Homo sapiens: one gene and its partners. The protein of the gene in region 2 interacts with the protein of the main gene of each other region in a biochemical or structural test. Each region holds a gene or a part of one and is shown on either strand. Other genes may lie near its edges.

Region 1 (4,004 bases), on a different chromosome or scaffold from region 2:
ACAATCCCCCTCCTTGATTTCGTACTTGAAGGAATAAAACGTGTCAGAGCCAACCTGAAAAGCAGCCAAAGATACTTAGGGTTCATCCAACTGACCCAACAGCAAATAATTCTAGTGGGTTCCGGTAAAGTTAGGAATATTGATCTTTGACTTGAGAGCAAAGCATTCACTTAAAATATATTTATATTTCTATCATAAACATTTATGTGAAAGAATGTTTATAATATATTCACAATGTACTTTTAAAGGTTACAAAGCAGTATGCATAGTATTAGCCCATTTTTGTCAAAACTGGTTTATATATAAATCTATGTCTTTTAAAAGTCTGGAAAGATACACAGCAAGCTGTTAAAATGTTTGTCTGTCAGTGGTGAGATTATAATTATCTTTCACTTTCTTCTTCAAGCAAACATTTCTTTTTTTTTTTTTTGAGATGGAGTCTCGCTCTGTCGCCCAGGCTGGAGTGCAGTGGCGTGATCTCGGCTCACTGCAAGCTCTGCCTCCCGGGTTCACGCCATTCTCCTGCCTCAGCCTCCAGAGTAGCTGGGACTACAGGCGCCCTCCACCACGCCTGGCTACTTTTTTGTATTTTTTAGTAGAGACTGAGTTTCACCATGGTCTCGATCTCCTGACTTCGTGATCCCCCCGCCTTGGCCTCCCAAAGTGCTGGGATTACAGGCATGAGCCACCGCGCCCGGCCCAAGCAAACATTTCTAAGTGGTCTTTTTCCCCTAATGAACGTATATGACTTTTACAAATTAGAAAAAGCAAACAAGAAAACCTTAAACAAATGTTAACAGTTATCTCTGTATGGTGGAATTAATTATGGGTGATTTTAGTACTTTTATTTGGTTTATTTTGTTTCCTACTTTTTCTTTTTTAAACAGCTTTATTGAGATATAATTTACATGCCATAAAATTTACCCACTAAAGGCATACAATTTAATGTTTTTTAGTATATTTACAACCATACCCACAATCTATTGGGTACCACACCACCAATAAACTGTTGCTTGAGATCACCATGAAGCAGAATTTCTCACATGACTGTACTAGATTATGAAAGAAAATGGCTCGATTTTACTTTCAGAAAAAATAACATGTCCACTGTGTTTATTTTCCTTTATCCCCATGTTGTCACATGGCTAGTTTTTTTTTTTCTGCTAAAGTAACCAATTGCTTGACATTCCCAGAGATATAGTCTTTTATAGTGAAATTTGTTTAAACATACTCTTGAAAGATTGGTATTTCTTTGAACCATGCATCCTGCCAGGATTTGTCTCCTGCTGGAGTGCATCATTGCAATAATATCAAAAACTAACTAAAACGTTGCTGTTAAACCCAGTACATTCAGCCATACAGACTTCTGTCTAATTCCGTAGAATCACATTAACCTCATTCCTCACTCCTCTTAGACATGCCCCATGAAGTACCCCCTCCCATTAAAGGTTTGGAGTTCTATAGTTTTTAGCCTAGGGCCAGAGACCCAGTGAATTCTTTTGCTGCAGTCTAACTAAATTCCTAAATTCTCCCTCTCTACTTGGTCCTGTTGAGATTTCTCCATCTACTTTTGTTTCATTTCACCCTAGATTCTACTTCTCTGATCATCCAGGAAGCCAACCTGCCTGAGGACGAGTCATACTCTGTCCTCCCACCCCAGGCCAGAGAGTGGTATCTGTCTTTCCACAAGTTGTAAGCTTCTACCTTTGATGATCACATATTTGGTAGTGCGTGATGGTGGTGGGTGGTGGGTGGCGGTGGTGGTGGGTGGTGAGGGGTGGTAGTGGTGGTGGGTGGTGGTGGGTGGTGGTGGTGGTGGGTGGTGGGTGGTGGTGGGTGGTGGTGGTGGTGGGTGGTGGGTGGTAGGTGGTGGGTGATGGTGGTGGGTGGTGGGTGGTGGGTGGTGGTGGGTGGTGGGTGATGGTGGTGGGTGGTGGGTGGTGGTGGTTGGGTGGTGGTGGTGGATGGTGGTGGTGGTGGGTGATGGTGGTGGGTGGTGGGTGGCGGTGGTGGTGGGTGGTGAGGGGTGGTAGTGGTGGTGGGTGGTGGTTGGTGGTGGTGGATGGTGGTGGTTGGTGGTGGTGGGTGGTGGGTGGTGGGTGATGGTGGTGGGTGATGGTGGCGAGTGGTGGTGGGTGGTGGGTGATGGTGGTGGGTGGTGGTGGGTGATGATGGTGGGTGGTGGTGGGTGGTGGGTGGTGGGTGATGGTGGTGGGTGGTGGTGGGTGGTGGGTGGTGGTGGATGGTGGTGGTGGTGGTGGGTGGTGGTGGTGGTTGTGGTGGTGGTGGTGGGTGATGGTGGTGGGTGGTGGGTGGTGGTGGTGGGTGCTGGTGGTGGTATGTGTGTGTGTGTGTGAGGCCTGGACTCCTAGTGATAGTACAAATCCCAAGTGACTTCAAGGTTAAACACAATTCACTCACCGTCTTAGTGGCTTCAGTTATGCGGTACAATACAAACTGGTTGTTACTTTGGTTTTGACTGTTATATTTCTTCAGAGCAGCATCCACAGCTTTAAATAAATCCTTGTCATTGCAGTCAATTTCCTCGGACTGTGATTCCTGGGTTAAACTTAGTAGCAGCCTGGAGCAGAGGAAAAGGATGGTAATTAGTTTCATGATCTAACAATCTCCCTCTAGGAGCTGAGGGATGGTTTCACCAAGAATCAAGAGCCAACTGGGATACTGAATTTGACAATCTCCAGCCTCTTGTTTCTTCTGTCCTCCTCTCTGCCTCAGAACTCAGGGCACTGGTTGGATTCCTGCTGCCAGACGCTAGTTGCCTTGTTCCCAAAGGTTAAATGGCTCTGCTGGGTTATCCAAACATATTTACAGCTAGAACATTGCAACACTGGGGTTGTTAACCTGCTCATTTGCATTTGAAAATCACGTGGCAGCACAGTGCATATTTCCAGGTGATTATACAACTTTATGTAGCAAATCAGAGCAGAATCTGATGAAGGAGGGGAAACAAGTGCCTACTAACTCGGTTATTCCCCTGTGACTTTTGCAAAGCCATTTTTGAAGGTCACTACATGGGTAAACAATGCAAGAATGAGTACAATGTGCAGACACATTTCATACAAAGTTTCTTTGCAGGATACCTACCTGCATAGAAGCAGACTGCTGTTAATTCTATTACATGCCTAAGAAGCTCATGCACAGGGGCATCCAGTGAGTTCCAGGAGTCCCATGCAGGACATTGGCACAACTGAAAATAAAATATGGGCGTCCTATCTGCTCTCTGGACAGGCCAGCCTTTCTCTGCTCAGTTGCATTAGTTCTGTAAAAGAAAATTGCTCCCAGGGTGGAGATAGAGGAAAAGCATAGGAAGGGATGGGTTGAGTGAAGCCCTGGATTCCCTATGCTTGCTTCTTTCTGGTTTGGTGTTGTTGGTTTGGCACAGAAAAAGATAGCCCCAAATATGGCTCTTTGGCATGCCGAGTACTTTGAACTGAAAGACATTAAAAAGGCTGCAAAAGCAAAGTCTCTTTCTTGCTTTCTCCTGCCCGTCTTTCTCCTGCTCCACTTCTCTCAAGGCAGGCCACAGAAGCTAGAATTTCTCTTCCCCAAGGCGGGTCATAGAACCCTTCTCCCTCAAAGCCAGCAATAAAACTTTATTATTCTTATTTTCCTCACATCAACACAGAGTGGGGAAACTATATTACAGAATGGTCCCCACCTGTAGACCAACATTGGAAAACTACAGTTGATAATCTCAGCAGAAGTGTGAGGCTTGATGGTATCAACATCCTTACTCCAGTAAAAATTGGCCAGGCACGGTGGCTCACACCTGTAATCCCAGCACTTTGGGAGGCTGAGATGGGTGGATCACCTGAGGTCGGGAGTTCGAGACCAGCCTGACCAACATGGAGAAACCCCATCTCCACTAAAAATACAAAATTAGCCGGGCGTAGTGGCACATGCCTGTAATCCTAGTTGCTCGGGAAGCTGAGGCAGGAGAATTGCTGGAACCCGGGAGGTGGAGATTGCAGTGAGCTGAGATT
Region 2 (3,500 bases):
AAGGTGCAGAATTCCTCTCCCCCGGGGAGGCGGCCGTGGACTCCTATCCCAACTGGCTCAAGTTCCACATTGGTATCAACCGGTACGAGCTGTACTCCAGACACAACCCGGCCATCGAGGCCCTGCTGCACGACCTCAGCTCCCAGAGGATCACCAGCGTGGGTAGGTGTCCTTGGGTGCACTCAGGGCCGTCTGTGTGCCGGCTGTGTGGCATCAGGGCTGCTGGGGCAGGCTATGTGTTAGAGAGGTCTGGGAGGCCGTTGCTCATTACGGCAGCGTCACCTCCTGCAGCAATCTGCACGGGCAGCGAGGAGGGACAGAGGGCTCGCGTCTCGTGTGCTCTCACACTGGATGTGCTCCTGATCTGCCGCACGATGAGCGGGGAGACGCCTGGACAGCCGGTCCACTGCGCTCTGCGTCCTCACCTGGGTGGTCCCGGGGGTGCCAACTGGATGACAGAGTCCTTCCCTCCTGGGGTAGAGGAATAGAGGGGTATCTCTGGCGGCGGTGACCCCTCCACCGGAAGCGTGTGCATGGAACTCTCCTGCTTTTCTACACACGACCCTGGCTGGGTGGGGAGACAGCCATGAGCCTGCTTCTTGTGGTTTTGAAGCCGTCCTTCGTCAGACCTCAGCAAGGCGCTGTGCAGTTTCATACTGAGGAGACATAGGCAGGGCTCAGGACGGAGGCCTGGGCCTCCCAGATGGAGGAGTTTGAAGGCAACATCTCCAGGTACTTTGGGATCTGCTGAATTGGACAAAAAAGGGCATCCAGTTGCTGATTTCAGGAAAATATGCCACTGCAGCTTCTGAGCGTGGAGGTTTGGTGCCATTGTTCTCAGCTTGTAGGCGATTGTTTGTGAAGGTCCCATTTGTCACCAGTGCTTGGAGAGGTAGTGAGGGCGGGGCTGAGGCCCTTTAGTGGGAGCAGCTGCTCCCCGGGGATTGCAGGGAGTGGGCCTGGGTGCACACAGCTGTGGGCAGGTGCAGAGGCCATGACAGCCTGAAGGCAGGGCTTTCTTTGCGCTGTGTGATGAGGCCAGCAGTCCCAGGCATTAGCTTCATGTGTGTCTCAGAAGCAACCTTGGTGCTGAAAGGGTCCCAGCAGCCTGGGGTTCTGTCCAGTTGCTGACACAGGACTTAGGTGTCCCCTTTCAGGCCAGCAGGTAGGTTCTCCTGAGCTCTTCGGGGCTGTTTCTGGCTCTCTCTGCCGGGTGCTGAGTTGTTTGCTGGGCACTCACCTGGTCATGGGGAGACAGAACTTGCAGCTCTCTCCCCACCCCTTGATCAGCTCACCTCATAACAGAGATCAGCTGGACAAGCTGGGAGTCCTCTTCCCTCCATGCTGCCTGGGAGTAACCTGAACCCCTGCCCCCCTCCAGGCCCCCCTCCGTGAAAGCGCTGCCTTTCTCCTGCCCCTGCAGCGGTCTGAGGGCTTTCAGCTGTGCTGGGGAACAGTCCTGCAGACAGCCACAGCCAGAACGTCCCTTCTGCCCCTGAGAGTGAGCATGGCCATTAAGGAAATATCCGATGCATTGATCAACATGTTTGTCCATTCAGCAGATTTTACTGGCACCTCCTGCATGTCAGACCCCCTTTCTGGGTGGTGGGGAGTTGAGGATGAGTTCAGCCTCAACGAGATCTGCTGCCTCTGTGGACCTGACAGCCCCAGGAAGAGACACACACGCACAGTGCCCGATCCTGAGGAGGAACGAGCACTTCAGAGCCGTGCACGCCAGCCAGGCCGTGTGGAGAGGAGGGGGCTCCACTGGGAGGGGCTGAGGACCTTCCACAGGGTCTGTCGGGCAGCTTACCTTCCAGGTGGGTCCGTCTTGGCAGGGAGAGGAATGAGAGAGCCGTGCACACCAGCCAGGGCGTTCGGGAGGAGCAGCACGCAAGTTAGAAAGTCCCCAGTGCCGCTGTCCGTATGAGCTTCTCTCCAGCTCATTTTCCCCATCTGTCCAGTGGGATCTCGCTGCGTGGGACCAATGCAAGGATAGGATGAGATGTGCATGTGAGCAAGCTTGTTAAATATTAACTAGTACTTTGTGCGTGGCCTTCCACAACAGTCCCCTCGTGTGCACAGGCAGGGTCTGAGCAGAGGGAGGGCTTTGTGGATTCCAAAGGCCACCAGGCCCTTGGCAGGCAACTGCAGCTCGCCACCTCCCTCACCGACCGGTCAGCTTTCCAACACCAACACTGAAGAGGTGTGGGAGTTCTGTGCCAGGAGCTCCCAGAGCAGCTTCAGGGAGAGTGTGGGGCCCCCTGGGACCTGGGGCATCTTTGCCCACCTTAGGAGTGCTTTGTCCATCTGGACAAGCTAGGCTTGGCTCACTGCCACCCCTCTTTGGTCCAGCTGTCCCGGGGCAGTGGTGCCCAGGCTGCCTGACATTGCAGGGGTGTGGACAGAGCCCTTGCCAGGGAATCCCTACCCCAGGATTCTGGTGTGGCCTCCGCCTGGGTGTGTCCTGGTTAATTCCTGTGCCTACTGAAGGCCTGCCCCAGCTGATCTCGCTCGCTCGCCTCCTAGACCATGCTGGCCACATTGGTTCTCATCCAGTCTTCTGGGGTGGGGACCCGTCCAAGGACAGGCTGGCTGCTCAGTCATTCTGCAGGGCCAAGCAGGGCCTGCAAGGACGATGGGCAGACACAGCCGCATCACCCAGGCAGGACAGCAGGCTCTGGCCCAGGAGATCTGGGGGTGAATCCTGGCTCTGCCAGCCATTAGCCAGAGTGGAAGTGGGCAAATGGATTAACGCCTCCAGCACCTGGTTTCTCACCGAGAACACAGAGAAGGTTATAATCTGGACCTGGTATAATCTGGACTCTGACTTACAAATCTGAATGCCAAGCAAAACCCATTCACTAGCGAAAACTGACTCAGGCTGAACGTATTTAGGGGCAAAACCTAAATTGTCGAGGCTAGTTAAAAGTCCTGATTTTTCTCTGTTACATTGAATAGTCACATGTTCCTCTGAGGAACAGGAGTGGGTTTAATTATGGGGTTCTGCCCTAGACCCGTGTGGGCATGCCATGATCCACACCATGCACCACGTGTGCCTTTGTCATCGAAATACCTGCAGTTCCCAAATACATCTGGCCTCACAGGGTTGTTGGGGCTTAAATGTGCAAATACGAGTAAAGAGGTGAGAGCGGAGCCTGACAGCGCACCTGCTGGGCAGGGTCTCCAACACTGCAGCATTTTGGGGGAAGCTCTCCTACTGGGTGGGGTCTTTGTACAGCAGCAGCATTTCAAGGTGGGCTGATCCTTCTCATCTGGGGAAGCCAGGGCTGGGCAGGTGCCTGAGCCTCATGAGGGTCTCAGTCTAGATGCTGGGCCCTATTCTCCCTGCTGCCTTGGGCTTGGAGATGCTCACAGGTGAGTTCTCATTTGTGAAGAGGTCTGTCTTCCTGAGGAAGCAGGGGACCCTCACCTGTGAACCAAGTGTGCCATGGGAGCTGCTCCATGTCCAGGTCCAGGTCTCCTGGTCTGCAGGGAAC
Region 3 (3,500 bases), about 110 Mb from region 2:
AGCAAGGTTTGAAAAACCACCTCATGATTACTACATTTACAATATGAGGAATGGAAGTCCAAACCCCAGCCTTATGCAATAAACCCATGTAACAAACCTGCACATGGACCCCTTGAATCTAAAATAAAATAAAAATGTAAAAAAGAAATTAATAATGGCTAAAAAGTTATGTTCAGCATTTTATTTATACAGTTACATTCTGGAAAGAAATGTTATTTTAAAATTAGGTATCTAGAAAATAGTGTAACTTTAATTCTTAATTGCTCATTATTTGTCCACAGTTTTCAAGAATTCTAATATAGCTATCTTTTTAGGTAAGATAGAAGAATAAATGAAGCGATCTTCTGAAGTACTTTTAACTTTCTAATTTTATAAAATAAAGTTTCCTTTCCTTCTCTGACTCCCAGAGGAAATACTGTAATAATAGTACCTCCAACACTGAGAATTCAAACAAAGAAGGCAGGGCTTGGAGAGTGCCTTAGTTAAACTCCTGTTGACCAATTGGGCTATTCCTGATCCATCAGTGTTGACAATGTATGGTCCTGGTAATAGTGATGTCATTCACCCCTTATGAGAATTCAGTTGATGATGGAGTTTTTTCTTCTCTGGCGTATGCATTAAAACACTACAAACTTGTTTTCTAGTTAACTAATTCAGACCTCAAGGGAAAAACAAAGTTATTGAGGTTATTTGACATGGAAAATAGAAGTCTGTGAGAGAAACAATATAATTTTGCTTGATTTTAATGTATAAGGATAGGGATTCCAACATTTAATTCAACTGAAAGAGTAAATAAATGACTAAAGACAGAACAACGTAAGTGGCTACATTAAAGTCATGGAACTTTTCTGATAGAACACATTATTGAAGAACATAATCTTCCCAAGAGATATGTATTAGTTTGTTCTCACACTGCTAATAAAGAGATACCTGAGACTACGTAACTTATAAAGGAAAGAGGTTTAATGGACTTACAGTTTCACTTGGCTGGGGAGGCCTCACAATCATGACGGAAGACAAAGAAGCGAAGGCACATCTTACATGACAGCAGGCAAGACAGCTTGTGCAGGTGAATTCCCATTTATAAAACCATCAGATCTCACGAGATTTATTCACTACCACGAGAACAGTATGGGGGAACCCACCCCCATGATTCAATTATCTCCACCTGGCCCCACCCTTAACACGTGGGGATTATTACAATTCAAGGTAAGATTTGGATGGGGACACAGCCAAACCATATCAAGATGATTAAGAAGAAAATATATAACCATTTGACCTGGGTGTTTTCTGAATACTGCTAAAAGCAAAGGATAGAATTAGATAGTCTCTCCTACAAAAGGATTCAACAAAAACTGTTCAGAAATCAAGTACTGTATTAACATTGGAAACAATAATTATAACTATATTTACACTAAATACTAAATACAATAAACACAATAATCTTATGCACCTACTTAAGATTATATGTGAACAATATAATCTATTTTCTGCTGCAGCTAAATGTGACTTTTTAAAACTTCAATTTTTCTATTGGTAAGTACTTACAAGATTTAAGTTGTTTTAACATATAATAAAATTATTTATAAATATTAATCTTCAAAAGGTGAGGTTGATAGACTATATTTTGTTTTTCAAATATAGTTTGTGAAACTGAAATTTATCTTAGCAACTCTATGTGATTTGTAATTGTGTTAACACATCCACAGTAATTTTTAGAAATGAAAATCAGCTGGAGGTTATTCATACAGATTTATAGTCAATAGGTTAGGTTTGTACCATGGCTTAATTCTCTAAATACCACGGATGATATTCTGATGGTGTCAATGGGCTAAGAAATGTTTTCACATAATTAGGAAAAGCATTTTCACTATTCAGTATAATTTACAAATATCAATGGGGAGGGTACTTGAATCCTTTTTACTACTGCAAATTTCAAAAGGTGTAAATAAAAATCAAAACCATGACTACACATAAGACAACCATTACCTTACAATATTAAAATTCAATTCATAGTTGTGACTTGAATAGTGCTGATATACAACACAGACAGATCATTTTCAGAGTAACTTGGTGTGGAGGGAATTTTAGAATTTCCTACGACAGGTTTGTTTAATTGGTCTCTGTCCCTGAGCAATGCAGTATAACAGTTAAATTTAGCAAATTCCTTGTTTTCATCTTTTTATCATAAGATCTTTAAACAGCAGGATGGCATGATTAAGGCTTCAAAACCAGTTGTTATTTTTATTTAACAGATAATAACACTACCATGCTAGTTAACCTAGTAAAGCTATTGAAGCAGCAGAATGGACACCAGAAAAGATTTGAGAGATAATACTCTGAAAAGAGATATATTCCTTTTCGTATAGTTGTGGGATACATAGAATGCTTTAAAACAGAGGAATGACCGAAATTTGATGTTGCATAATGTATTTTCTTAGAAGAAGAGAATTATATAAACTTCAATTTCATCTTCTATTCATAGGCATAAAGAGATAATAAGGTGAATTGTGTGCAATCAACTCAGATATTTAGTCCAAAAGAACCATCTTCAGAAGAACTACCTTAAGAAAAACATGTCCTCAGTTTCCAATTTATGAACAGGTGATGTTCCAAAGCTTTTTTTGTGTGTGACCCAGAAGTTGCTAAAATTTGGAAATCATTTACCCATAGAAGCAATGCTATAAATACTCGTCTCCCTGGCTAGTCCCCCAAGACTTATTGAACCATAACATGATTAATTTTGAAACTATTTGTTTTAGCCTGGGTCCTGGTAGCAGGAATGATGAGGGAAAACAGCATTTCTCCGTTAATCTTGGGCACAGTACTAGCCATACACAAGATTGGAAAATGTGGAATTTATCACCAATGTCATTAATACTACCACTTTGAGTATCTACAAAATGTCAGCAACTGGAATAGATGCTTGTATGTGTTAGCTAATGTATTCCTCATAGCAACTCTGCCAAGTAGAAATTATTATCCCTATTTTACACTTGAATAAAATAGATACAAAATATAATTTATCCAAGTCAAGCAGATAGTAATTAGTTAGAATTAAAGCCTCAAGGTCTTGCCTTACTTTAAAGCCCTTGCTGTTTCCATTATGCTTCAATGTTTTTGGAATTCTCCATCCTCCATATACACATGTACTTCAGACCCCATGAGTCTCATACTACTATGGAACCCTATCACAACGTACTTAAATCTACCTTGTATTCTGTAGTGCTCTCTGCTCTAAAATCAGACATTTCCATTTTCTCAATCCAAACTCAAAGTGCCTCTGTGCAACTGACCTCAATGGGTATAAGATTGAAATAGCTCCTGCCACCCTCGAGGGGTCTCCATTTAAGAAGGAAAATCTCACACATGTGTGTGCATGTGTACATACATATATAAGCATACAACACACACACACATATATATATACACAAACACATATATGTAAATTTTAGGCAAGGTTACAAAATGAGGTGTCAGATTATAGAGGATTTTTTAAG
Region 4 (3,500 bases), on a different chromosome or scaffold from region 2:
TTCGGCCTTCGGTCTTATTGGACACCCATTTGTTGATGGCCGCTCTGGATTGCTCTGCATTTTCCTGAGGAGAACAGAAAATAAACCTACTCACCTGTGCTATTCAATTGGCTTCTCCATTTTCCCAGGCAGCATTTTATTTTTCTCACCATCCCTCTGTCCTTTCCCACCATTTGATTAAGAAGCCATTGCTCTAACCCAAATTGGGGAAGCCTCACATATCTAATATAGTTCCATGAATCTTTCCTGTAGTTAATAAATATTATCAGAAGAAAAAGAACAAAAAGAAATAGGAAGAAATAAATGAAAAGAAGGAAGGCGAAAATAGTCTGGGAAAAAGAAGATAAAATATTATTTTCTCTGACTTTGGAAAACCTTAACTCACAAAAGTAGAATTTCCAAGGCATGTGCCAGGGGAAGCAATGAATGATTGCAGGTTATATGGGGTTGGCAGGTTATATGGGGTTGGCAGGTTATATGGAGGAGAGAAATGCCCATGCAGTCAAATACATTTGAGGAATGCCGATTGAATAAAGCCAACAGATTTCTTTGTTGCAGAGTTTCTCAGAACCTTCATAGGCCCATGTGCTTCATGAATCTCCAAGAGGAGAATGTAACATGCATCATGTACCAACTTTATTTGACCATGATAACAGTTCAAATTAAGTAAGATATCTTGTAGAACTGGCATCTTCAAAACACCCTTTGGTATATATTTGAAGTTGGTGGATGGAATGAAGAATTGATTATTAATTCATGTTTTCTGGGCAGTCACTACAATCCAAGCATGGATACCTTTGATTTCTCAGGTTTCAAGTAAGAATAACTATTGCAGGGGTTCTAACTTTTAGTCAGCCCTCCAGCAGTCTTCAGCAGCAAAGCAGTGTGAATTTGGATGCTGTTTCTCCACCTCCTCAATCTCTGAGTGGAGAGGAAGAACTCGGAGGTCAGGGGTAACATCTGCAACTCACCTTGAAGTCCAGGGGCTGGAGCTTGGCTCCATATACCAACTCACTGATGTCCTGGTAGGTCTCATTGAAGGTAAGGGATTTGTCTCCAAAAAGGCGATTGGCTGATACTAACTTGGAGGATTTGTTGGCTTTTCGATAGAGTCGGCAGTTCAGTTTGGCAAAGAAGAAGTGGATCTGATCAGATGTTTTCTCAGATATGGTGTCAAACTTAAATACCTATAGAAGTCAAAAAAAAATGGTGGTGGGTTTGGTGGGCTGCCTAGTTAACATGGGTGGTGAGCACATGCTGGTCAGTCTCTGACTAATAGCCACCTCAGTTGTTAACTCCTTCAAGCACAGTACCTGGGACAGCATAAATGCTCAACTCTTGTGTTCTGATGAATAAAAGGATAAAAGAAGAATGAAGGGTAGGAAGGATAAAGGGAAAAAGAGAGACTAGGTTGCCACCTAAAGTCTCTAAACGCCTCTAGATCAACACACAGACGTTTTCTTGCTGGAATGGGAAAAGTCCTCTTGGTGATTCTGGACAGAGAAGAGAATCAGGACGGTGTCCTTCTCGTAACAAACACTTTTGTGGCATCTACTGGGGCCAGCTGCTCATGGAGGCTCTGGGATACTGGTGGTAGGGGTGAAAAAGGAAGAGTGAATCTATCAGCAAGGGATTAAACAGGCTCAGAATCTAAGAGCTCAGGGCTGAAAAGGACTTAGAAGTCATCCATGCTTTGAAGTTGGAATCCCCCAATGCCCACCTTCACCATCCCCAAGGCAAAATGGGTGAGGCTGTTCCCCTCCTGCCCTTTCCATGCTCTCTCCTCAGGCTACAAAAGGCCTTTTGGTTTTATCTGTTCTCTGCCTTTGGTTTTCCTGATTTTGCTCCAATAGGCACTTTTTTTAGGGGGGGATTATGCTTTTGATCAAAAGCTTGGTGCTGAATCTCTCTTTTCTCCAGAGAGATTCAGTCTCACCCTGCTTTCCCAACACATGGCGTTTGTGTAGAGGGGAGGACCAAAGGAACATGTGTGGTTTGGAAGCAGTGTTCTGTTCTGTTCTTCTTGTAGGAAGGGTTACATTTAAGATCTTACCTGGGGACAGAGACATGAGTGATATGGAAGTACTTTGAGACCAGTACCAATGTATACAAAAATGACTGAAGGGCCCAGAGAAGGCAGTATTATGTGTCTTCAGAGTTTTTAAATCTACAATTTCTTTCAAAGAGTGAAGACTTGGGTTAACTCACCCCAGAGCCCTGAGCAAAGGTGATGAAGTTCCATGGAAATTGACCACTAGAATAGAAGGAACCCTCCTAAGACCCACAGACTTTAGTGTCCAAGTTTCAAATAAGCACCGTATACCATCTTGAAGGGACTCATGCCTCCCTATTGATGAACTCTGCTTCCAAAGTGTGATCCAACTTGAAGAAAGACTGTCATGCAGCCAAGCCAAGGACAGATTAAAGATCTAGTGTTTCCATCCATGACTTGTCATAGCCCCAGAGGCCAACAGTGATCAATCAATCTATGACATTTCATCTTATCATGCCCTACTTCCCTCCCACAAAAGGCAGTGGGGGGAAGGGGGTGGGAACTAAGTCACTGAGCTGAAATGATCCATACTTCCCAGAGCCAGAAAACACTCTCACGTCCTTGAGGCTTCTCTTGGCTTTCCTGGGCCCCTGGTCTCAATATACCATCCTAGGCCCCGTGCAGTGGCTCATGCTTGTAATCCCAGCACTTTGGGAAGCCAAGTCAGGCCGATCCCTTGAAGTCAAGAGTTTGAGGCCAGGCGCGGTGGCTTACGCCTGTAATCACAGCACTTTGGGAGGCCAAGGCAGGTGGATCACGAGGTCAGGAGTTCAAGACTAGCCTGGCCAACATGGTGAAACCCCATCTCTACTAAGAAGAAAAAAAATTAGCCAGGCATGGTGCCGGGGGCCTGTAATCCCAGCTACTCGGGAGGCTGAGGCTGAGAATTGCTTGAACCCGGGAGGTAGAGGTTGCAGTGAGCTGAGATCGTGCCACTGCGCTCCAGCCTGGATGACAGAGCGAGACTCCGTCTCAAAAAAAAAAAAAAAAAAGTTTGAGACCAGTCTGGCCACGTGGTGAAACCCCATCTCTACTAAAAATATAGAAATTAGCTGGGCGTGATGGCGTGTGCCTGTAATCCCATCTACTCAGGAGGCTGAGGTGGGAGAATTGCTTGAACCTGGGAGGCAGAGTTTGGAGTGAGCCGAGACTGCACCACTGCACTCCAGCCTGGGCAATAGAGCGAGATTCCATCTCAAAAAAAAAAAAATACTATCCTAGAATTTTTTTCCACGAGAGCCTATATGCCTGATGTCACCATATGGTAAAGCTACTCTTCTTCCACCAGAGGAGGGACTGGCACTACACATTGCCTGGCACAGAGGAAGTGCTGAATGAATAAATAAATAAATGATCAAATTAATGAGTAAACATATAGATGAAAGAATTACTGAAAAGAAGTTGAGAGAAGATACAAGCCTTCCCCCATTTTAAGGTGCTCAAAAGA
Region 5 (3,520 bases), on a different chromosome or scaffold from region 2:
TAGACAAATAACAACCCTAAACAGCCCATATCTTTAAATCAATGTATATTTTCTAATAAGGGAGTTGTCAAAACAAAATTTCTAATTTTTCAAATTGCTTTTAATGTGACTAAAACATGAAACTGTTTATAGTTTATTGGTCTCACTGTTTAAAGTAAAGGGTCTGGCTAAAGGTTTTAATAAACAAAATTATATAACCTCAACTCCAACCATCTCCATCTCATTCATCTCTCTCTTTCTCTCTCTCTCTCTCACACACACACACACACACACATACACACACACATACACACACCACATCGCTGCAATCAAAGAAAAATAGAGTATACTAAAACTGGCTTGGCAAACTTCTAATTAACGATCAAAACTCCTTGGAGCTAAGGTGCCATTTTCCCAATAGGCTGCTATTTTTAAAATATTTTTCTTTGAAAACAACAGCATGATTAATCTCACCATTTCCACTTAAATTACTTATATGAAAACAGCAGTGCACTATGGGCAATTATTAAAAACACTTTATTATGTATAATTTGTACATGCTTCAATTTGTGTCACTTAGGGTGATTTATTTTCCAGGTTGTAATGACATCTACCGAGATTAGCTAGATCTAATTTTCATTCTGCCATGCCACATACAAAAATACAATTTTCAAACAAAGCTTCCCTTCTTTACACAAAGGTACACAAGAGTTTGTCAGACAAATAAAATAAGAATACTTCACACACGTATCAACACCATACAAGGCATTATTCTTCACACAGTAACATCTAATGTGTTCTTTTATTTTTGAAACAGCAGGAAAAGAGCCCTTTCCCTTCAGAGGAAAATAAAAACTTTATCTGTTGCTTAAGCCAAACTCCAGGGAGGAAGGTGTGGTCCTCTGGGGAAAGTAGAGGGATGGGGATGTATGGAGGAGAATGGACGCCCCTTCATAAGCACTTCAGGAGGAAGGAATTGCAGGAGGTTCCTCGGGGACAGTCACACAGCTTCCCGATCCTTGCCCCTTTCCTCACTGCACACTGCTCACCGGCGTCACACTGAAACAACAAAATGTGTGGTCATCGAGTATGAACAAACCCAGGTTCCCAACAGGCAAGTCTCACAGTCAACGCAATTTCTGTCTCTTGAAAGGGGCAATTGGACCCCATCACCATCACAAGAGGTCTACGTACAGTCAGATCTGAAACAGGGAGCCTTGTGCTTATAACCTCAGTGAGAGTACATTTTTTAAAGAAACTTACATTATTAGTTTTATCCTAGTTTCTTCCACCTTTAAGTGGCGAGGGTTGGGGGGCGTGGGAAGGGGAGCATCACATTTCCTGGCTCCTTTTCTTGCCCTCTCAGAGGGGAAAAAAATCAGACCTTTTTCCTGAGCAACAAACAATAGACTTACACTTTCTTACAACCCCTGTTCCTGCTTTCCCATTTCCTCACCCGGGAAGGAAGAAGGAGCCCACAGAATCCTGCAAGCCCATTACCTAAGTTATTTAGCCACATCCTACGGAGAAGACTGTGTGTACGATTCAAGGCGGTGTACTTTCTCTTGGAAAAACACGGGAAGGGAGTGACCACAAACCTTACCATGGGGACTTGGCCATACTTCTTCTCATAGATGGGAACACGTTTACTCTTGAGCTTCTTCAAGACTTCTTGCAGCGCTTCGATCTGCAACACACCGCTTCGGAGCCTGAAGTTGCCGCCTTGGCTGCGAGCCCAGCCCAGGTGCGCACTTCCAGCCCTAGTTATAAGGAGCCCCGGACCCACACGCACTCTGCGGTGGGACTCCGCGGACACAGGGAATGGTCGAGGGGTGGAAACTTAGCGGACGCTGTCCCAGGTACTGACCGCGGGTCTCTGAGCCGCTGGGGTCCCTGTTGCTCAGAGGGGCCGGGATGAGGGATTCGCTCAACAGACTGCCAGGAGCCCGTGAGCTCGAGACGCTCTTCGGATGGCAGTGGGTGCCTGGGCGTTGCGCTCAGCTCCCCGCGCCCTGACTCTGGGAATAGGAGTGGGGGTGGGGGGAGGAGGGAGGCGTGCAAGAGAAGAGACAAGGCGACAGCTCAAGGGGGTCGAGAGCGAGGGGAATACCGACCAGCTCCTTCTCGTGGGAGGCATCATCCACGGCAGAGTAGATGTCCAGGGCTCGGGGCTGGAGCTCGGCGTCCTCCTGGGCACGGGTACCCAACAGAGGTAGCATCAGCAGCAGGGCGGCGCCCAGGAGGGGCAGCAGCCTCACGCGGGAGCTCTCCATCGTTCTGAAACTCGTCGTTGCTGGGGCACCACGCGCTCCCACCTTTTATAGTGAGCCCGAGCCCCCGTGCAGGAAAGAGGGAGGAGGCGAAGAAGGAAGGGGGTGTGGAGGAGGGCCCGGGTCAACCGTCTGTAGGCAGCGCTCCGCCGGCGCTTGACGTCAATGCCCGCCGGGTTCCAGGCGCCTGGGAACGAGGCTCTGCGCACAGATGGGCTAGAGCGCAGAGAACAGGACCCTGCGCCCCCAAAGGCTGTCAGTCTCACGGCAAGGGATGCTCCCCGAGGGGCCTGAGCTGAAGCCGAGGGGCTAGAGGTGAGGGACGGGAAGCGGGAGGGGCCTAGGAAATGGAAAATGCCTTCGGGTCAATGCACAGGCAGGAGAGTCGTTTCCCAACACCTAGCAGTGGTGACAGCTGCAACATCCACCTCGCCAGCCCTGCCTTGCCTCGCACCCCAACCCCAAGTGTGGCGGTGAGAAGGGGGTGTTGCCTCCAGACAGCCACATTTGCTGAGCACCTTACTCTGTGGGGTAGGGGAAGCAAACATACTATACAAAAGAAAGAGAAATAGTGGCCCTCCACGTGATGGGTTCTATGATGGAATCTGTGTGACAATAGTTAAAAGAAGAGAGGGAAAACAGACAAACCCGGATTCAGCAGTGGTGTTGGAAGTGCAGAGAGCCAGGCTCTGGTTCCCATCCTGGCTACACCACGTAAAAGTTGTATGACTTTGAACAAAATGAAGAACCTCTCCAAGCCTCAGCTTTCTCTTTTGTAGATCTAGGATTAAAAAGATATACCTCACAAAGTCATCAGTAGGATGAAATGAGAGATTAAGTATGTCAAACTCCTGGTTCTTAGCTAAGCTTCCCTGTCCCTCCTTTTTGAACTTTGAGGCTGCCCAGGCAAATTTAACCATCCCCAGAACCTCCCCCCACCCACCACCAACCCTTGGTATCCAAGAAGCCTGTCTAGAAAGAGAGTAAAAGAGTGAAAAGAAAGACAGCTCCATGATTATGAAAATATCTCCAGAGATCAGAAGTCAATGGTGAACCAGCTCCCCAACAACTTGGGAGAACAATGTGGCTTTTTTAAAAGTTGAGATCCTTACAGCCTGAATGCACAGGAAAATTCCTGTAGGAAAAGCAATGCTTTCCCGCTTAGACCTGCTTGCTCACCTGGCTTCCTTCACCACACCATCTTTCCCTCAACTGTTCCTAAATTCATCCACTCTTCTCCATCCCCATTACTACAACCCAGTCCTAGACAG
Region 6 (4,037 bases), on a different chromosome or scaffold from region 2:
AAAAGGAACACTCTGGAAACTTGTTGGGACACTTCTGCCTTTCACAAACGTTTGGGGGGAGTACTACTAGCATTTAAGGATTGAGGGTTAGCAATGCCAGACATACCAGAACACGCAGGGCAGTCTCCCATGATGAAGAGGCCGCCGGGTTCCCCAGGACTCACATGTCCACCTCAAGTTCACGTGGGATTATCTGAGCCTAGACTGTCAGTCCTGGGGCTGCTTTATTTCATATAAAAATATAATATTTATCCAAGGTTTTACTACACACTGCATTTTCTGTGAAGACAATGACCGTGTAAATCAGGGAAAGATCTATATTTTATTTTGTTTGAAACTTTACCAAGCATTATTTACCATTTCAAAAGCTCTATCCCTGGTAGTACCATTGGTTTTCTTGTTCACCGGCCAGCAGTGAGCAGCACACAAGCGACCTCCCGTGGGCTCCACATTGGACAGCCTCACTGCACCTGCCCAGGCCCTTAGGCCACAGCACTGCCATATTCAGGGACACATTATTCTCTTTTATTATGCCTCCATATTATCATTACAGCATTATCTTTTTTTTAATTTTGTGGGTAGATTATATTAGCTATACGTTTCACTTCAATGGTAGTAGTAAGGGGCACATAACAAAATATTTACTTATATATATTAAAAAAGAGAGTCTGAGAAGTCTGAAAAGTTTTGCCATAAACGGTCTCCACCAGCCTCAACTCTGAGTGCCCGAGGATTCAGTCTCAAGTCCAGCAACATTGTGAAGCAGGAAATTTACCTTGAAAGGAGCTATGTACTCTAAGTAGTGATTTACCTGTCTGCCTCCCCCACTGGATTGACCAGTTCCTTGGGGGCTGAGAGAACAGGTCCTGAACATTTCTGCTGTGCCCCCCAACCCACATCCTCATAGTGTCCAGTACCAGGCTGGGGACTCAGGAAGCATCCATGGGATCCCCCAGTGCCTTCTTTCTCGAGGTGTTCAGCACCTAGAACAGCTCAAGACAAATTCCCCACACCCCACCCAGACAGAGCTGAATCTTACTGGGGCGAAGCCTTGAGTTGCAAGGCAGAAGCTCTCGTGATGGGATTTGGGTCATATTCCGGGTTATAGGAGGAGCTGGGGAGTATGGGAAGCCTCCCACTTGGTCTTTGGTTTTCCAGAAACTCCACCATCACAAGCAGGATGTTAATCAGTAACCGTCCCACAGGGGATCATACTTTGGAATAGCAAATATTTGCTGAAGGTTCTGGGCTGCAAAGCTGAAGCTTTGGTTTCTGCTCTAAATGAAGGACTTTTCCAGGACCCAAGGCCACACACTGGTAAGAGGCAGTGGGTTACAGGAGACCTTCAATGAGTCTAATCAGGGAGGGACCGGGAAGGATGGTATCATCCCTGGGCGGGCTCCAACGTGAGGGCTGTGTGGCTGAGCAGTGCAAAGACCTCCATCCTACACTCCACAGGGACTGTACATACAGATTGGGAGCTGGAGTGGGGTAAGAGGCGAATTATAGACACAAGGGGCTCCTCTGCAGGAAGGAGGCCAAGGGAAAGAGGCTTGAAAGGCTTGATATTTCACCCACCACCACTCACTGCCGGAGTAAGCAGGTCTCCCCTTCCCAGGGCTGAGGGGAGGCAGGGATGTGTGCTGTCCCAGGGCTGAGAAGTGGCAGGTGAGCTGGTGATTCCTTACTGCCCAGGTTCTGTCTAGGAAGGTGCGTCCTCACCATGCTGGATGGTGTCCTAGTCCAGGAGCACCCCCTGAGCTCCTGGCCTAGACTCCAAAGGGTTGGGTAGATGAGCAAAGACTTTACAAAGACCTTAGGCGATATATGTCCAGGAGCACCCAGGAATTACTGGGCTACCACTGCAGACTGCAGGACAAGCTCCAAGAACAGGAAGGTAAGACTCAGCATTTGGAGGTGGTGACATCTAGTTGGCGTGCTGGGCTAATTTCCTGACCATTGTACAGGGAGAAGTAACCTTGAATTCAGGAGTATTCTGTGTGGTCTTAATGTAGAAAGTAGCACTAAATGATGCCACGTAATCGTTTTAGCTCAGGCTCCTCTAACAAAACACCACAGGCTGGGTGGCTCCAACAGCCATTGATTTTTCACAGTTTTGGAGGCTGAAAGTCCGAGTCAGGGTGCCAGCGTGGCCGGATTCTGGTAGGGCTGTCTTCTTGGCTTGCAGATGGCCACCTTCGCACCGTGTCCTCCCATGGAGAGGAGGTGCGGAGGGGGACTCTGCTCTCTTCTTATGACAGCACTAGTGCTATCACAGGGGCCTTGCCCTCACGACCTCATCTAAACCTAATCACCTCCCAAGCGCCCCAACTCTATTGCCATCACAATGGTGGTTCGGGCTTCAACTTATTAATTCTCAGGGGACACATTCAGTCCATAACAATAAAAGCGTGAAACTGGGCTGCGTTTACACTGAAAGAGCTATTTACCCAACGTTTACAATACTTGGGTGACCTGTTGAATGCAGGCTTGCCATTTAGAGTCAAAAAGAGCTTCCTCAACAGTGTCCTTTGGGAAACACAGTGGAAGTATTTCACTGCTTCTACAGGGGAGAGGGTAGTGCCGTTCAGACTGCAGAGTGAGGCCCTGAATTCCGGGGTGCCATTCAGCCCGAGCAAGGGGCAACATGCTGGGCCCTGGCGCTGGAGGCGGTTTTGTCCCAGGCATAGATAAGGACTCAGCCCCTGCATCAGGAAGAGGCCTGGCAGCACCGCCTGTCAATACATTTTGCCGCAGGTGACCTTGGTCAAGAATAAGGGTCTCTGCTGATGGGAACTACTGTGAGGCCGGCAGCATCCACCCTGCGCTCACTGGGCTGGGTGGCCTACCCCACCCAGACCCTCCCAGGGCAGTGGGCCCAGAGAGAGGATGAGGGAGGGCAGGTGTCCCAGGGGTTCTGCCCAGCCAGCCTCTGGGATCAGGCCTGCAGTGTGGCTGAACACCAGAACTGAGTTTGGACACAGCCAGGTGGCCCAGGCCAGTCCCAAGCCATGTATTTGGATGGAAAACATGGAAGTATTCAGGAGCCAGGCTCTGTGTCCAAGGATGTGGAGGGAGCCTAAAAGGCGACAGAGAAGGGGACAGCTAACGGTGAAGAAGTGTAGCTCCCACACTGCAGCCTAGGACAGTGAGAACCGGCATGCAGCCCAGGTGGCTGAGGGCTCTATGAAGCCACAGTGGAGGGAGCCCAGAAGTGGGTTGTATGAATTGCGGGGCCTCCTGCTACCCGGGAGCTGCAGCTATAGGAAGGAAGGAAGGAAGGAAGACCTCCAAGGAACTGTGTAGCAGAGGTGCAGTGCAAAGAGAATTTTGATAAAAAATCCAGGAAAGCTCCAATACTTTCCCCCTTCCTTGCCTAACGGGCATGCAGGCACTCCAATCCCCAGCCAAACAGGGCACTGGGCAAGGCCGGCCACCCATCTGGATGGGCAGCCTGACGACCAGATGGTCAGGGCAGTGAATGAAGCAGATCAAGGAAAGGTGTGTGAGGACCCCTGATTCCACCTGCTTGGACCCCCACCTTCTGTGCTGCCTCCTGCTCCCAGAGTGGACTCTCTTGCCCTGGCCCTCAGGGAGGAGACGGGATGAATGAAAACGGGGTCAGGACTGAGAGCTGCCTGCCGGCCTGGCAGGGAATGGGAACTGGAGGAGGTTTTGCTCTGTGAAATAATGTCCCCTCTTTGGGTGAGCAAATGTCACCCACACTTGCTCTAGGTCTCCCTGGGGCAGGGCTAACCTACTTGAGCCACAGGAAGGAGGCAGGGTCCCTGAAGAAGCTTTTACTATCCACAAAGACATTTTAGGAGGCATTAAAACCATCTCTATCCTCTCCTCTCCACAGGAAGTCTTGCAGCTGAAGGGAGGCACTCCTTGGCCTCCGCAGCCGATCACATGAAGGTGGTGCCAAGTCTCCTGCTCTCCGTCCTCCTGGCACAGGTGTGGCTGGTACCCGGCTTGGCCCCCAGTCCTCAGTCGCCAGAGACCCCAGCCCCTCAGAACCAGACCAGCAGGGTAGT
Region 7 (3,500 bases), on a different chromosome or scaffold from region 2:
CAAGTGGTGTGTTTTCACATTAAAAATCACTTGATAGGCTGGGTGTACACAGTGGCTCATGTGTATAATCCCAGCACTTTGGGAGGCCAAGGCAGACGATCACCTGAGGTCAGGAATTTGAGGCCAGCCTGGCCAACATATCAAAACCCTGTCTCTACTAAAAATACAATTAGCTGGGCATGGTGGTGTGTGCCTGTAATCCCAGCTACTTGGGAGGCTGAGGCAGGAGAATCGCTTGAACTTGGGAGGCAGAGGTTGCTGTGAGCCAAGATTGCGCCACTCACTCTAGCCTGAGTGACAGAGCGAGATTCTGCCTCAAAAAAAAAAAAAAAAAAAGAAACAACAACAAAAAAACCCCAAAATTATCTGGGTGTGGTGGCACACACCTGTAATTCCAGCTACTTGGGAGGCTAAGGCATGAGAATTGCTTGAACCCAGGAGATGGAGGTTGCAGTGAGTTGAGATTGCGTCACTGCATGCCAGCCTGGGCGACAGAGCAAGATTTCTGTCAAAAAAAAAAAAAAATCACTTGATAAATCAGAAAAGGAAAAAACTGCATATTCTTACCTACTGGCTTAATTTAAAAATTCAACCTATTGGTTAAAATTATTATTTGCTTTTAAGACAAAATGTTTGTAATTTAACAAAGCCTTCTAATTACTTTTTTTAAAAGAAAGAAAAGGCATATGAAAATGGACAACATGCCAAATACACGAGCCCCTTGACCCTCCTAGTCAAATATTATGTTTAACATTTCCTTATTTTCATATAGGGCTTTAAATCAGAAAAGCAAATATATAGGAGCAATCGCGTCAGATTAGCATGTTTGACCAACATCAACCAGTGCAGAAACTGGGCTTCTCCAAACAGTGGTGGAGCCACACCTCTAACTCCTTCTCAGAGGAATGGCCCCAGCGGCTCAGCAGGAAGTTCAGAAGTCACTGCAATGAGCAAACAGACCTGAGCACACCCCGGCGCAGCCTGGAGTCCGGGAAAGAATCAGTCACCAAGTTTTCTGATGGCCTGGAAATATTCCACCCTGTCCCAAGAATGTCTCTAAGCCAGGGGTGAGCAAACTATGGCCCACAGGCCATATCCGGGCCTGGTTTTTTTTTTTTTAAAGTTTTACTATACACTGCCATAAATACTGCCTATGGCTGCTTTCTGGCTACAAAGTAGAACTGAAAAGTTGAGACAGAGACAGAGACTCACAGACCAACTCTGCCCATAGGGTATTGTGAGGATTAAACATTTACCATCTGACCATTTAGACAGTTTGTCAACTCTGCCTCTAACCCATTGGGATTAAATGACCAAGGTCACTGTGTTCTGCTTAAATTGCTTTAAAAACTTACTAGGAAATACACAGACTCTCTTCCTCTCACTTCCCCAAAATGAACACCATCTTTTCCCCAATGCTAGAAGCTGACAGTGTCTAAAGATTAAAACTTTTAAAATGAATGTATAGTGGTAGGTAGTAGAAACACCAAAAAGCGAGGTGGATGAGTGAAAATGAACTAGGGAACCAAATTCTTCCTGTTTTGAAATTTTCTGAAGAAAGGTTGAACCACCGTCAAGAATATATCCTGGGGCCAGCACGATGGCTCACGTCTATAATCCCAGCACTTTGGTAGGCTGAGGCAGGAGGATCACTTGAGCCCAGGAATTCGAGACCAGATTGGGCAATGTTATGCAGGGAGACCCTGTCTCTACAAAAAAATATTTAAAAAAGAATACATCTTGGGCCAGGCACGGTGGCTAATGCCTGTAATCCCAGCACTTTGGGAGGCCAAGGCAGGCGGATCACCTGAGATCGGGAGTTCAAGACCAGCCTGACCAACATGGAGAAACCCTGTCTTTACTAAAAATACAAAATTAGCCGGGCGTGGTGGTGCATGCCTGTAATCCCAGATAGTTGGGAGGCTGACGCAGGAGAATCACTAGAACCTGGGAAGCGGAGTTTTCGGTGAGCCGAGATAGTGCCATTGCTCTCCAGCCTGGGCAAAAACCCCGTCTAAAAAAAAAAAAAAGAAAAAGAAAAGAAAAGAAAAAAGAATACATCTCAGTAGGAGCTCAATTTTTCCTTGAGTCACAAACTGCCGCCCAAGGGCCCAATCCTGCCAGCCATCTATTTTTGTACACTGCCCACAAATTAAGAATAGTTTTTACATTTTTTTTCTTTTTTTTTGAGACGAAGTCTTGCTTTGTCACCCAGGCTGGAGTGCAGTGGCGCAATCTCAGCTGTCTGTAACCTCTGCCTCCTGGGTTCAAGTGATTCGAATGTCTCAGCCTCCCAGGTAGCTGGAATTACAGGCACATGCCACCACGCCCAGCTAATTTTTGTATTTTCCCTTTTTTTTTTTTTTTAAAATAGAGATGGGGTTTCACCATGTTGGCCAGGTTGGTCTCGAACTCCTGACTTGAAGTGATCCGCCCACCTCAGCCTCCCAAAGTGCTGGGATTACAGGCATGAGCCAACGTGCCTGGCCAGTTTTTACATTTTCAATGGTTGAAGAAAGTTAAAAGAATAATATTTCATGACAGAGTGCTTCAAAGGGCTGAGATAAATTCTCCACATATTCCTGGCTGCCTGGAAGATTATGCGCGCGTGGGAAAGACCCAAAAGAGCCCAGCAGGGCTGAAAACCAAGAAGAACCGAGAACCAGCTGAAACTTGCAGTGTTCCCCAACTCGCACACAGACCTACTGATAGAGGGATGGAGACTGACCTGGCAGGTGACTCCTGGTTCAGTGCTCCTTGGAGAATTTGGATGCCATGAAGTGATATTAGATGTCAGTTTAGCTACCTGTTATTTTGAGTGCTTCCTTAGCGGTACTGTTGAGGCAGTGTGGCTTAGGAAAAGAGTACTGATGTGGGTCAGGCCAAAAGGAATTTTAATCCTAGCTTTCTTACTATTTGCATGAATTTTGGTGAGTTGTATAATCCCCCTCTCTGTATCTTATTCAATCCTTGTAAAAGTCCATTGAAGTAGGCTTACTACTGACCCCATGTTCTAGGATGCAGTGATATGAGACTTTAAATATGTAAAACCTTTTGTTGTGAGGATTAAAAATTACAGCGGCAATAAAGTACACACCACATGATAACTGCTCGATAGGTTTTTTTTTTTTTTTTGGTTTGGAAATAAAAGGATATCTCATGACACATGAAAATTACATGAAACTAAAACTTCTGTATCCATAAATAAAGTTTTACTGGAACAGAACCATGCCCATTCATTTACATATTATCTGTGGCTACTGGGCTATAACAGCAGAGCTGAGTAGTTGTGACAGGGACCACAGGGTCTGCAACATCTAAAATAGTATCTGGTCCTTTTCAGAAACAGGTTGCCAACTCCTGCTGTAGTTCAATGGTCCTTAAAGTGTGGTCCCCATATTAGCAGCATCAGCATTACCTTGGAATTTGTCAGAAATGCAAATTTTGTGGCCGACCCCAGACCTACCAAGTCAGAGGTCTGTTTATTCCACTAATAAATG

Evidence for each region.
Region 1: of the proteins of FAM20C (region 2) and KNG1, one has a biochemical effect on the other in vitro, tested with the Homo sapiens proteins (one large-scale study listed by IntAct).
Region 3: of the proteins of FAM20C (region 2) and PPP1R3A, one has a biochemical effect on the other in vitro, tested with the Homo sapiens proteins (one large-scale study listed by IntAct).
Region 4: of the proteins of FAM20C (region 2) and SERPINC1, one has a biochemical effect on the other in vitro, tested with the Homo sapiens proteins (one large-scale study listed by IntAct).
Region 5: of the proteins of FAM20C (region 2) and CARTPT, one has a biochemical effect on the other in vitro, tested with the Homo sapiens proteins (one large-scale study listed by IntAct).
Region 6: of the proteins of FAM20C (region 2) and SERPINA10, one has a biochemical effect on the other in vitro, tested with the Homo sapiens proteins (one large-scale study listed by IntAct).
Region 7: of the proteins of FAM20C (region 2) and GOLM1, one has a biochemical effect on the other in vitro, tested with the Homo sapiens proteins (one large-scale study listed by IntAct).

The regions. Positions count from the first base shown.
Region 1 is NC_000003.12:186,716,155-186,720,158, reverse strand, and holds the start of KNG1 (kininogen-1 isoform 1 precursor), read right to left. Parts: upstream 2,801-4,004; 5' UTR 2,617-2,800; coding exon 2,422-2,616; intron 55-2,421; coding exon 1-54. UniProt on the Homo sapiens protein: Kininogens are inhibitors of thiol proteases.
Region 2 is NC_000007.14:195,571-199,070, forward strand, and holds part of FAM20C (extracellular serine/threonine protein kinase FAM20C precursor), read left to right. Parts: coding exon 1-162; intron 163-1,562; coding exon of another isoform or gene 1,563-1,930; exon of another isoform or gene 1,931-3,500. UniProt on the Homo sapiens protein: Golgi serine/threonine protein kinase that phosphorylates secretory pathway proteins within Ser-x-Glu/pSer motifs and plays a key role in biomineralization of bones and teeth.
Region 3 is NC_000007.14:113,909,010-113,912,509, forward strand, and holds part of PPP1R3A (protein phosphatase 1 regulatory subunit 3A), read right to left. Parts: intron 1-3,500. UniProt on the Homo sapiens protein: Seems to act as a glycogen-targeting subunit for PP1. PP1 is essential for cell division, and participates in the regulation of glycogen metabolism, muscle contractility and protein synthesis.
Region 4 is NC_000001.11:173,910,828-173,914,327, forward strand, and holds part of SERPINC1 (antithrombin-III isoform 1 precursor), read right to left. Parts: intron 1,188-3,500; coding exon 972-1,187; intron 65-971; coding exon 1-64. UniProt on the Homo sapiens protein: Most important serine protease inhibitor in plasma that regulates the blood coagulation cascade. AT-III inhibits thrombin, matriptase-3/TMPRSS7, as well as factors IXa, Xa and XIa. Its inhibitory activity is greatly enhanced in the presence of heparin.
Region 5 is NC_000005.10:71,718,026-71,721,545, reverse strand, and holds CARTPT (cocaine- and amphetamine-regulated transcript protein preproprotein), read right to left. Parts: upstream 2,272-3,520; 5' UTR 2,253-2,271; coding exon 2,094-2,252; intron 1,667-2,093; coding exon 1,583-1,666; intron 1,039-1,582; coding exon 931-1,038; 3' UTR 501-930; downstream 1-500. UniProt on the Homo sapiens protein: Satiety factor closely associated with the actions of leptin and neuropeptide Y; this anorectic peptide inhibits both normal and starvation-induced feeding and completely blocks the feeding response induced by neuropeptide Y and regulated by leptin in the hypothalamus.
Region 6 is NC_000014.9:94,290,469-94,294,505, reverse strand, and holds the start of SERPINA10 (protein Z-dependent protease inhibitor precursor), read left to right. Parts: upstream 1-1,237; 5' UTR 1,238-1,317; exon of another isoform or gene 1,318-1,827; coding exon of another isoform or gene 1,828-1,897; intron 1,898-3,862; coding exon of another isoform or gene 3,863-3,912; coding exon 3,913-4,037. UniProt on the Homo sapiens protein: Inhibits activity of the coagulation protease factor Xa in the presence of PROZ, calcium and phospholipids. Also inhibits factor XIa in the absence of cofactors.
Region 7 is NC_000009.12:86,093,059-86,096,558, forward strand, and holds part of GOLM1 (Golgi membrane protein 1), read right to left. Parts: intron 1-3,500.